2 separate regions of the Homo sapiens genome follow, and region 1 is linked to region 2. Evidence: fine-mapped expression QTL. A gene starts in region 2. The other region holds a variant in brackets. All regions are shown on one strand. Distances are between the middles of the regions.

Region 1 (4,401 bases), 420 kb before region 2:
TTTAGGGAATTGAAGAGTGATTGAGACTGGTTAGTCCTCTGTCAGTTGTCTGTCCAGGCTCCTCTGTCCTCGGAGCCTACATTCTAAGAGAACCACAGGAAGTTTATAAACAAGGTAAATTCAGAGTGTCAGGTACATAGATGGAAATGAAACCATGATGAGATGGAGATTCACAGGGGTGGAATGGATGTACATACTTTAGATCAGCGGTTCTCAACCTTTTTGGCACCAGGGATCAGTTTCATGGAAGACAGTTTTTCCATGGACCAGGGGGTGGGGGGAACATTAGATTCTCATAAGGAATGTGCAATCTAGATTACTCACATGTGCAGTTCACAATAGTGTTCACCTTCCTATGAGAATCTAATGCTGTCCCGCTGATCTTACAGGAGACAGAGCTCAAGTGGTAATGCTGGTTCACCTGCTCACTGACTGCTGTGTGTCTAGGTTCCTGACAGGTCACAGATTGGCATCGGTTCACAGTCTGAGAGACCCCTGCCTTAGATGAAATGGTTACAGAAACTCTCTCTGAGCAAGTGACATTTGAACAGAGATCTAAATATTGAGAAGGAGGCAGCCATGCAAAGTTTTGGTAGAAGACCATTCCAGGTAGAAGGACATTACAGGAAAAGGAATCAGAGATTAGCAGGTTAAAGGGTCCTGAGACACACTGGCTTGGGTGGTTCAAGGAATACAAAGTATAACCAGCATGGCTAGAGCATAATGAGCAGGAGAGAATGTGGCCAGAGGCAAGATTAAAGAGAGAGGCAGAAGTCAGACTACATGACCTTGCAAATTAGGTTAAGGGATTTGGATTTAGTGCAGGGTTTCTTCACAGCAGCGCTATAAAGATTTAGACCAGATTTGTTGTTGTGGGGCTGTCCTGTGCATTGTAGGATGTTTACCAGCATTTCTGGCCTCTGTCCACTAGAAACCAGTAGCATTCATTCCTGAGTTGTTACAGTTAAATGTGTCTGTAGACATTGTCTAATGTCCCTGGGGAGGCAAATTGCCAGAGATTGAGAACCACTAATTTAGTGTATTTTCAGTAGGGAATAATATGATCTGATTTACATTTTAAAAATATAATTTTGGCCAATTTGTGGAGAATGGAGTATAGAGTAAGCACTCAGTCAATGCATGTTGAGTGAATAGATAAATTTATTATTGTTGTTCCAGTACAACCATTGCTACCATGAACAGTTACAGGATATAAGATCCACAGTCAATATAATAATGGCTTTGACTTCACTGGATAATGAGCTGTATGTAAGACATTGTTGGTTATTGGAAGTTGATACTGTCAATAGTGTAGGACAGTCCTTCATAGTCCTTAATACAGACTGAATAGTCCTTAAGTACAGACTGAATCATTAGTTTATTCTACATTACAGCAAAGTCCTGAAACTAATAAAGTTTAAATTTCACATTTTTTCAACTTCAGATGACTAGGTCTCATCCTAAACTTGATTACAGAAAAACATAAGTTCATCTGTGAACTATTGTCAGGGCAAGCAGTGATTATTTCCAATAACAGATAAAAAGCCATCTTCTTTTTTGTTCTGCATTCTAAAATACATTCTCTCTGAGCACCCAAATCTTTTAACTTGAGTTTATAAAATTGGCTTGCATCCAGTGTTTTTTTTTTCAATCAATTTTTAAAATTTGGAATAATTATTGAGGCTAACCGTTGTATTATATCCATCTGCCCACTAAGGAATCAAAAGTGTACAAAAGAGACAGAAGACACAGTACCCTAGTGATAGATGAATGGCAAAATGTTTGGAGGCTCCAGTTTGAATATTTCTCTGTTTTTTTTTTTTCTGGTGGATGAAGAACTGTGGTGGATATCTCATAAGAATTGATTTTACTTTGATGTGTGTTTACTTTCTCCTTCCACG[G/A]ATTAGAAATACTACAAATAAAAGTGTTTCCTATGATACTTTCACATATCTTATTCTAGCTCCAGGAAAAAACAACATATGTGAAATACGTAACTATAAAAGACCCCATCTGAAACATGATCGGTCTTCAGGGATGTTTGAGGCCTTTCGAGATTTAGGTAAAAGCTAAAGTCTTCCCATTTTTTTGTTAAACCTAAATTATAATTGGCTTCAGGTGGCTGCATTGGTTTGTCAAAGGATTATCATTCCCAGAGCTTCTCTTGGTTCATGATATCTGGGTACTTTGGTGAACTCTACTACCTTACATAAAGTGTCTTTTCTGAAAAAAAATTTTTAATGTTGATTTATGTTAGAAGTTAGTTTGAAGGGGGAAAAACCGTGGCAAAGGAAATAAAAACATTAAATGTGATCAAACTTCTTAAATTGAACTTTGTTAAACTCAAATGAGATTTCTAGGAAACATTGAGAAAGGGGAGTATTCTTTATCAGTAACTGGAGAGCATTCTATAGGAAAATGACTTTTTTTCATTGTGTGTGTGTGTGTGTGTGTGTGTGTGAAAGAGAGAGAGAGAGAGAGAGAGAGAGAGAGAGAGAGAGAGAGAGAGAGAGGTGTCTCATTCTGTTGCCCAGGTTGGAGTGCAGTGGCGTGATCTCGGCTCACTGCAACCTTCACCTCCTGGGCTGAAGTGATTTTCCTGCCCCAGCCTCCTGAGTAGCTAGGACTACAGGCATGCACGACCCCGCCCAGCTAATATTTGTATTTTTTTTGTAGAGATGGTGTTTTGCCATGTCGCACAGGCTGTTCTAGAATTCCTAGACTCAAATGATCAGTCCACATCATAATCTTTTTCAATTATTTGATAATCCTCAGTGAACTAACATCTGTGAAAATAATTTAATATAACAATGCCTCCTTTTGTCATTTAAAATCATTATATAATTTTCTATATATCTACTTTATTCCAGTTTAAATATAACAACAAAATACCATTGAATCACGGATAAATCTCCCATAGTACTAGAAAGAAATAAATTTTGCTGCCAATACTCCAGTTAGGTAAATAAGTAGAGGCATTTAATAAGTTATCTGCATTTTCTAGTTTCTCACATGCTTTTTAAGATGAATAAACAAATAAATATTGAATGTTCTAGGTTGAAGCAATTCCAAATAAGGCATCAATATTTGATTTCTACTCTAAGCCAATAAAAAATGTTTTGCAATCACTTTTACTTCAAAAAATCACTAGATTTTTTTGCACTCACTTTTATTTCTTTCCCTGACAGGAACATATAATACTTTGCTCATGCTGGGATCCAAGAATCATTATCAAGGTTCTGTTTCCAGTTTAATAAAATGTATATTTTCATTGGGAAATTCCAACCCAACTAATTGTCTTGGAACGTAAAATGTGATAGGTGTGACCTAGTTATACGAAGCCTGTTTGTTCTTTCTTTTGGGTTTTATGCTCCTTACTGTGGATGGGCAAGAAAAAGCTCACATGTGAGTATTCAACAGTAGAAAAAATATGTAGGTTTGCATGAGGTATTATAGTCACCTCAGGGAAAAGGGGCTAAGTCGTCTAAGGGGCTGGAGACTCCATATAATGGAGAGATGGCAAGAACAATGTAAATGAGGAAATGGGTTGTGCCCACTACAGGGAGAAAGGACTATTGAACAATTTAACTAAAATCTCTTAAGATAAAGTAATCCTTGTGACATGAGAGATAAAGATTGAACTGATTATATTTTTAAATTAAAAGACATAATCGGTGATAATATGTGCTAATAAAATTAAGAGACCAGATGTTTGTGTGTTTTTTTGGTCATGAAGTTTGAATAATTAGTTTCACCACACATCCCAAGTAGATCCCATATCTGGAAATATGCAGTTTACACTGTCCCTTTGCCAGCATATCACAAAGTCACTGGAGAATGTGCTCCCTGGCTCTGCCAGTTCTTTTATCTGGCTTCCTGCTCCCTTCCCGTAGGACTTCATCAAGGGGGCCTGCTCTGTCACCCACCCCCAACCCCAAACAGCTCAGGTTCTCCCATGAGAAGTTCTCACAGTTCCCTGTGCTTTTCTATAAGTTATCTCATATGTGTTTAAATATTTATGTTGTAATTATTTATTAATGTCTAGCTTCCCTCATAGACTATATGATCTATCAGGGCTAGAGTTTTTTTTTTGGTCATATTTGCCACAAATGTCCCCATTTCTTGGGTCCATGATTGTCTCTTGTGGCCCTAAACTTGGCTATGTATAAATAAATGACACATTCCTTACTCCACCACATTTAAAACTGTCCAAACAGGTATTTTACTAAAACTTATATAATTTTTGTCTCTAGGTAAAATTTTTCTTATTTGTATTTTTGGATCCTGAGCTAAGCTGTACTCTGCTCTTTGATTGTGCTTCCTATTTTAATTCATTTTTAAATAAAAAAAATAAAGTTCTGTAATCCAGAGCATAGCATTGGCTTTTCAAAATTGAGAACAGCT
Region 2 (4,401 bases):
AATTTACACAAAGCATTTGGGTCATGAATGAAATTAGTTTTTGACTGCTTTTTAGCCTAAGGCGTAATTGTGTATGTTTTAGCTTTTGATTCTATATGTCTGATTTTGTTCTATATGGAAGAATGTTTGTGTAAGTAGATTTTATGTCGACTTTTAATTTAACTGTATTTGTAAAAAATTGCTTTTGGAACTTGCGGGGTTTGAATAAGCCTCTGAGATAATGTGTTTAGGATGGTACTCAGAGCTGAGAGTAAATGTGTTGTGCTTGATATATGTTTTCTGTTTAGCAGTACATGTGAGTAAAGTTAGGCCTGTGTATGTGGGATATTATTTTATTTAGAGGTAAAGAAAGAAGGAAGTGACAGAAATAGGCAAAGCATCTTCACATTTTCTCATGGTTCATTTGGGTTTGTTCTTCAACATATGGTCAAAGTCTACACCCTTCCAAGTGAATGTAGAGTGATCTGTTGCCTACATGTTTAGCTTCTATCTTTTCCTTTTGCTCTAAGCTACTTTTCAAAAATATTTAAACCAGTATACTCCTAACTTAAGTTTCTCAATTTCTGTCATGCTTTCTGATTGGCAAATCAGAATGAAGGCAAAAGATATACTCTTCTGTAAAGTCTAAGCTTGGAATCGTTAAGTACTTATTTATAGAGTAACGACCCATTTCCTTGCCTTTTATTAGTGCCTAGAATGCCTCACTTAACTTTATAAACTTACAAATTTATTACTGGGCATATATAGATGTTAAATGTTCTTACTACAATCATGTTATATGTATAAATACATATATATATTATACATGTATATAAAGTCACACACATATAAAATTTATATCTATATAGCATGAGATCTACCTTCTCAATAAGTTTTTAAAAATACAATGCATTATTGTTGGCTATAGGTACAATACCATATGACAAATCTCTAGAGTTTATTCATCTTAGTTAACTGAAACTTTATGATCATTGATATAGTAACTCCCCATTCTCCTCTCCTTCCAATTCCTGGTAACCATCATTCCAACCTTTGATTCTATGCATTTAACTATTTTAGGTACCTCCTATAAGTGGATTTGTCTTTCTGTGATTGGTCGAGTTCACTTAGTATGATGTCCTTCAGGGGTCACCCATATTGTTATTCCTGGCATATTTTTAAAAAGTGGAAAAAAAACCCCACACACTAAAATGTGAAAAATCTCTACCTTAAAGAAAGGAAATTCAAAAGATAAGAACACATGCCAGAGGGTGCATATTTTAATCCCCGTTTCCTTGTGTATTAAAAAAAAAATCTGAAAATGAAGAATTTCAGGGCAGACAGACTCATAGGTCAGGACTGAGAAATTTGCAAAACTGGAGCTGTCTGGGAGAAAATAGCTCTAAATCCACACTTTAGAACTCTGCGTTGTTTTGGGGGAAAATAAGAGTCACCAACGTTCTCACTTAGCGACAAGTTTAATTCGTACTCATGGACATGCGCCAGGATCAGGTGTGAAAGCTGTGAAATCTAGGTCCAAAAATTCTGAAGAGGATGCTGCTTGTATCCTCCCCTGGCGGCTAGCTGCCTTCTAACTTCAAGTTGTGGCTCAATGCTTGGATTTCTCTGCTCCTGGACATTAGTGTCTGCGAAGCAGAAATGCAATAACTTTCGAACAATCCCTTGCTTTGCTTGGAAAGTCTCGCACTTGGCCACCAGACATCACCGAACTCAGCGCTTGTCTCCTGCAGCAATTCCGTGGCTCGCTGAACGGCTGCCACTGGCGCCCCCAAGCGCCAGCGCGTCCCAGTCGTTCCCGGAGCAGCCTTCGACCTTCGGCCGAAGGGAATTGGACCTGGAGAGACCCGGGGGCTGACAGGAATGGCTTCTCTTGTAATTCACTGGGGCTAGAAGGCAGGAAGCCAAGGAAGACAGGATCTCAAAGGCTCCCTGCCCCCGTTCATTCCTATCTGGGATTTCCTATTCGCAAAAAGAGCAGTTGCCTGGCATGGTAAAGATGCTCATTCGAGCTGTGAGGTCCAAACCCTTGGAGCGTACCCAGAGCATCCCCTTCTTCCCAGTCCCTCAGAGACATAGACATATTCTACGAGTGCGGCGGGGCCCGGGGTTCCGAAGGAGGAGACTAAAAAGACCCAAATCGAACAGGCTCATCTTTTCCCCTCTTTGGTCTGCCCCTTTCCTTCCAGACCCTCTATCCGGATCATTGGCCACCCCCTGGCGCACCTATGTGGCTCCAGCTTCACACACTCCCTGGGAGGCACAGTCTAAAACCAAACGTGAGCTCACAAAGAACACAATACTAATGAGCAGATGCGCAGATGCTCACTTCTCTAAAGCTTCCATAGGGCTTTTCCAGCTCTCCTCGCGGAGTCAGGGGCTGAAGATGGGTGGGAAGATCTAAGAAAGGGTGGCAGCGATCAAGTGGTGTCAGCTTGCCCCACTCCGTTTCCACCTTTGGTCTCTGCCAGTTTCCAAAGACCCCTCCAACCGCTGGAGTTGTTGTCAGGAATTAGGAGCCCCTATGTTCCATTCACCTCATGGAAAAGCTAGATCCCCCTTTTCCAGTAGTTGTGGGTGGAGACAGAGCGGGAGGATGAGGAGGAGGAAAAGCTGGAGTGAAAGCCGCAGAAGCAGAAGCAGCACGCAGAGAGGAGGGGGGCGGAAGCGGTGGGGAGTGAGAGAAAAATTTTCACTCTTTGTCACTCTTGAATTGGGGGCGGAGGTAAAAAAAAAAAAAAAGTCCTCACTGTGGGAAGCTATAAAAAGCAAAGAGGACTGGGGAGAGAGCAGAGAGAGAGAAAGCGGGAGCCCGCGGCGAGCGTAGCGCAAGTCCGCTCCCTAGGCATCGCTGCGCTGGCAGCGATTCGCTGTCTCTTGTGAGTCAGGGGACAACGCTTCGGGGCAACTGTGAGTGCGCGTGTGGGGGACCTCGATTCTCTTCAGATCTCGAGGATTCGGTCCGGGGACGTCTCCTGATCCCCTACTAAAGCGCCTGCTAACTTTGAAAAGGAGCACTGTGTCCTGCAAAGTTTGACACATAAAGGATAGGAAAAGAGAGGAGAGAAAAGCAACTGAGTTGAAGGAGAAGGAGCTGATGCGGGCCTCCTGATCAATTAAGAGGAGAGTTAAACCGCCGAGATCCCGGCGGGACCAAGGAGGTGCGGGGCAAGAAGGAACGGAAGCGGTGCGATCCACAGGGCTGGGTTTTCTTGCACCTTGGGTCACGCCTCCTTGGCGAGAAAGCGCCTCGCATTTGATTGCTTCCAGTTATTGCAGAACTTCCTGTCCTGGTGGAGAAGCGGGTCTCGCTTGGGTTCCGCTAATTTCTGTCCTGAGGCGTGAGACTGAGTTCATAGGGTCCTGGGTCCCCGAACCAGGAAGGGTTGAGGGAACACAATCTGCAAGCCCCCGCGACCCAAGTGAGGGGCCCCGTGTTGGGGTCCTCCCTCCCTTTGCATTCCCACCCCTCCGGGCTTTGCGTCTTCCTGGGGACCCCCTCGCCGGGAGATGGCCGCGTTGATGCGGAGCAAGGATTCGTCCTGCTGCCTGCTCCTACTGGCCGCGGTGCTGATGGTGGAGAGCTCACAGATCGGCAGTTCGCGGGCCAAACTCAACTCCATCAAGTCCTCTCTGGGCGGGGAGACGCCTGGTCAGGCCGCCAATCGATCTGCGGGCATGTACCAAGGACTGGCATTCGGCGGCAGTAAGAAGGGCAAAAACCTGGGGCAGGTAGGAAAACCCCCAAACACATTCTTCAGACAGAAGAGGCAGGGGCCAGCTCTCTTGGGCTAGCGGTTTGCCATTGCATCTTGCAACATTCGGAGCGTGGCCCCAGATACAGAGAACAGGCGGCTGGGGAGGGATTCACCGAACAGGGTCTGCGTGGGCGGGGGGTGTCTGGGTGGCTGCTGGTCCTGCACTGCACGGAGTCAAAGGGTTAGGATTCTGTCTCGCCTTTGCTCTGGGGCGTGGGCACATATCAAGATCTAGTGCTTTCCTGTGGAGAAAGTGGTCAGGATGGTCCTTCCATTTAACACTGTGATGCAACTGATGAAGATGTTAATAGCATTTAACCTATAGCACCTAATAACGTGCCAGGCACAGTTCTAAGCGTTTTACATATTCACTCATTTAATCTTCACAACTCTGTGAGCTAGATGCTGTTGCTTTCCCATTCTGCTAATGAAGTAATTGAGGCACGGATTGATTAACGATTTGCCCAAGGCACACAGCTAGTATAAGTGGCAGAGAGGGATTTCAGTCTAGACATTGAGATACTGGGCGTTTAACCATTATATTTTACAATCTGGAGGGGACATTACTCCTTTTCAGGGTCTCCTTCCCTTCCAACCACTTACTCTCTTCAAAGAAGTAAGGTCACAGACAAAACAACTCCAGTAG

The links. PIP is the estimated chance that this variant, and not a neighbour inherited with it, causes the effect. A credible set is the group of variants that fine-mapping cannot tell apart.
Region 1: its variant is the best candidate, but not a certain one, in a credible set for the expression of DKK2 in lung (TOPMed, PIP 0.54).

What each region holds. Positions count from the first base shown.
Region 1 is chr4:107,453,571-107,457,971 of GRCh38, reverse strand. No RefSeq gene overlaps it. Among named protein-coding and RNA genes, the nearest start is that of PAPSS1, 260 kb to the left of the region's middle. The variant G/A (reference allele first, on the strand shown) is at 1,902.
Region 2 is chr4:107,034,698-107,039,098 of GRCh38, reverse strand. It overlaps DKK2 (dickkopf Wnt signaling pathway inhibitor 2), which reads left to right and starts at 2,786. Exons shown (of 4, transcript NM_014421.3): 1 at 2,786-3,729. The coding sequence starts at 3,508.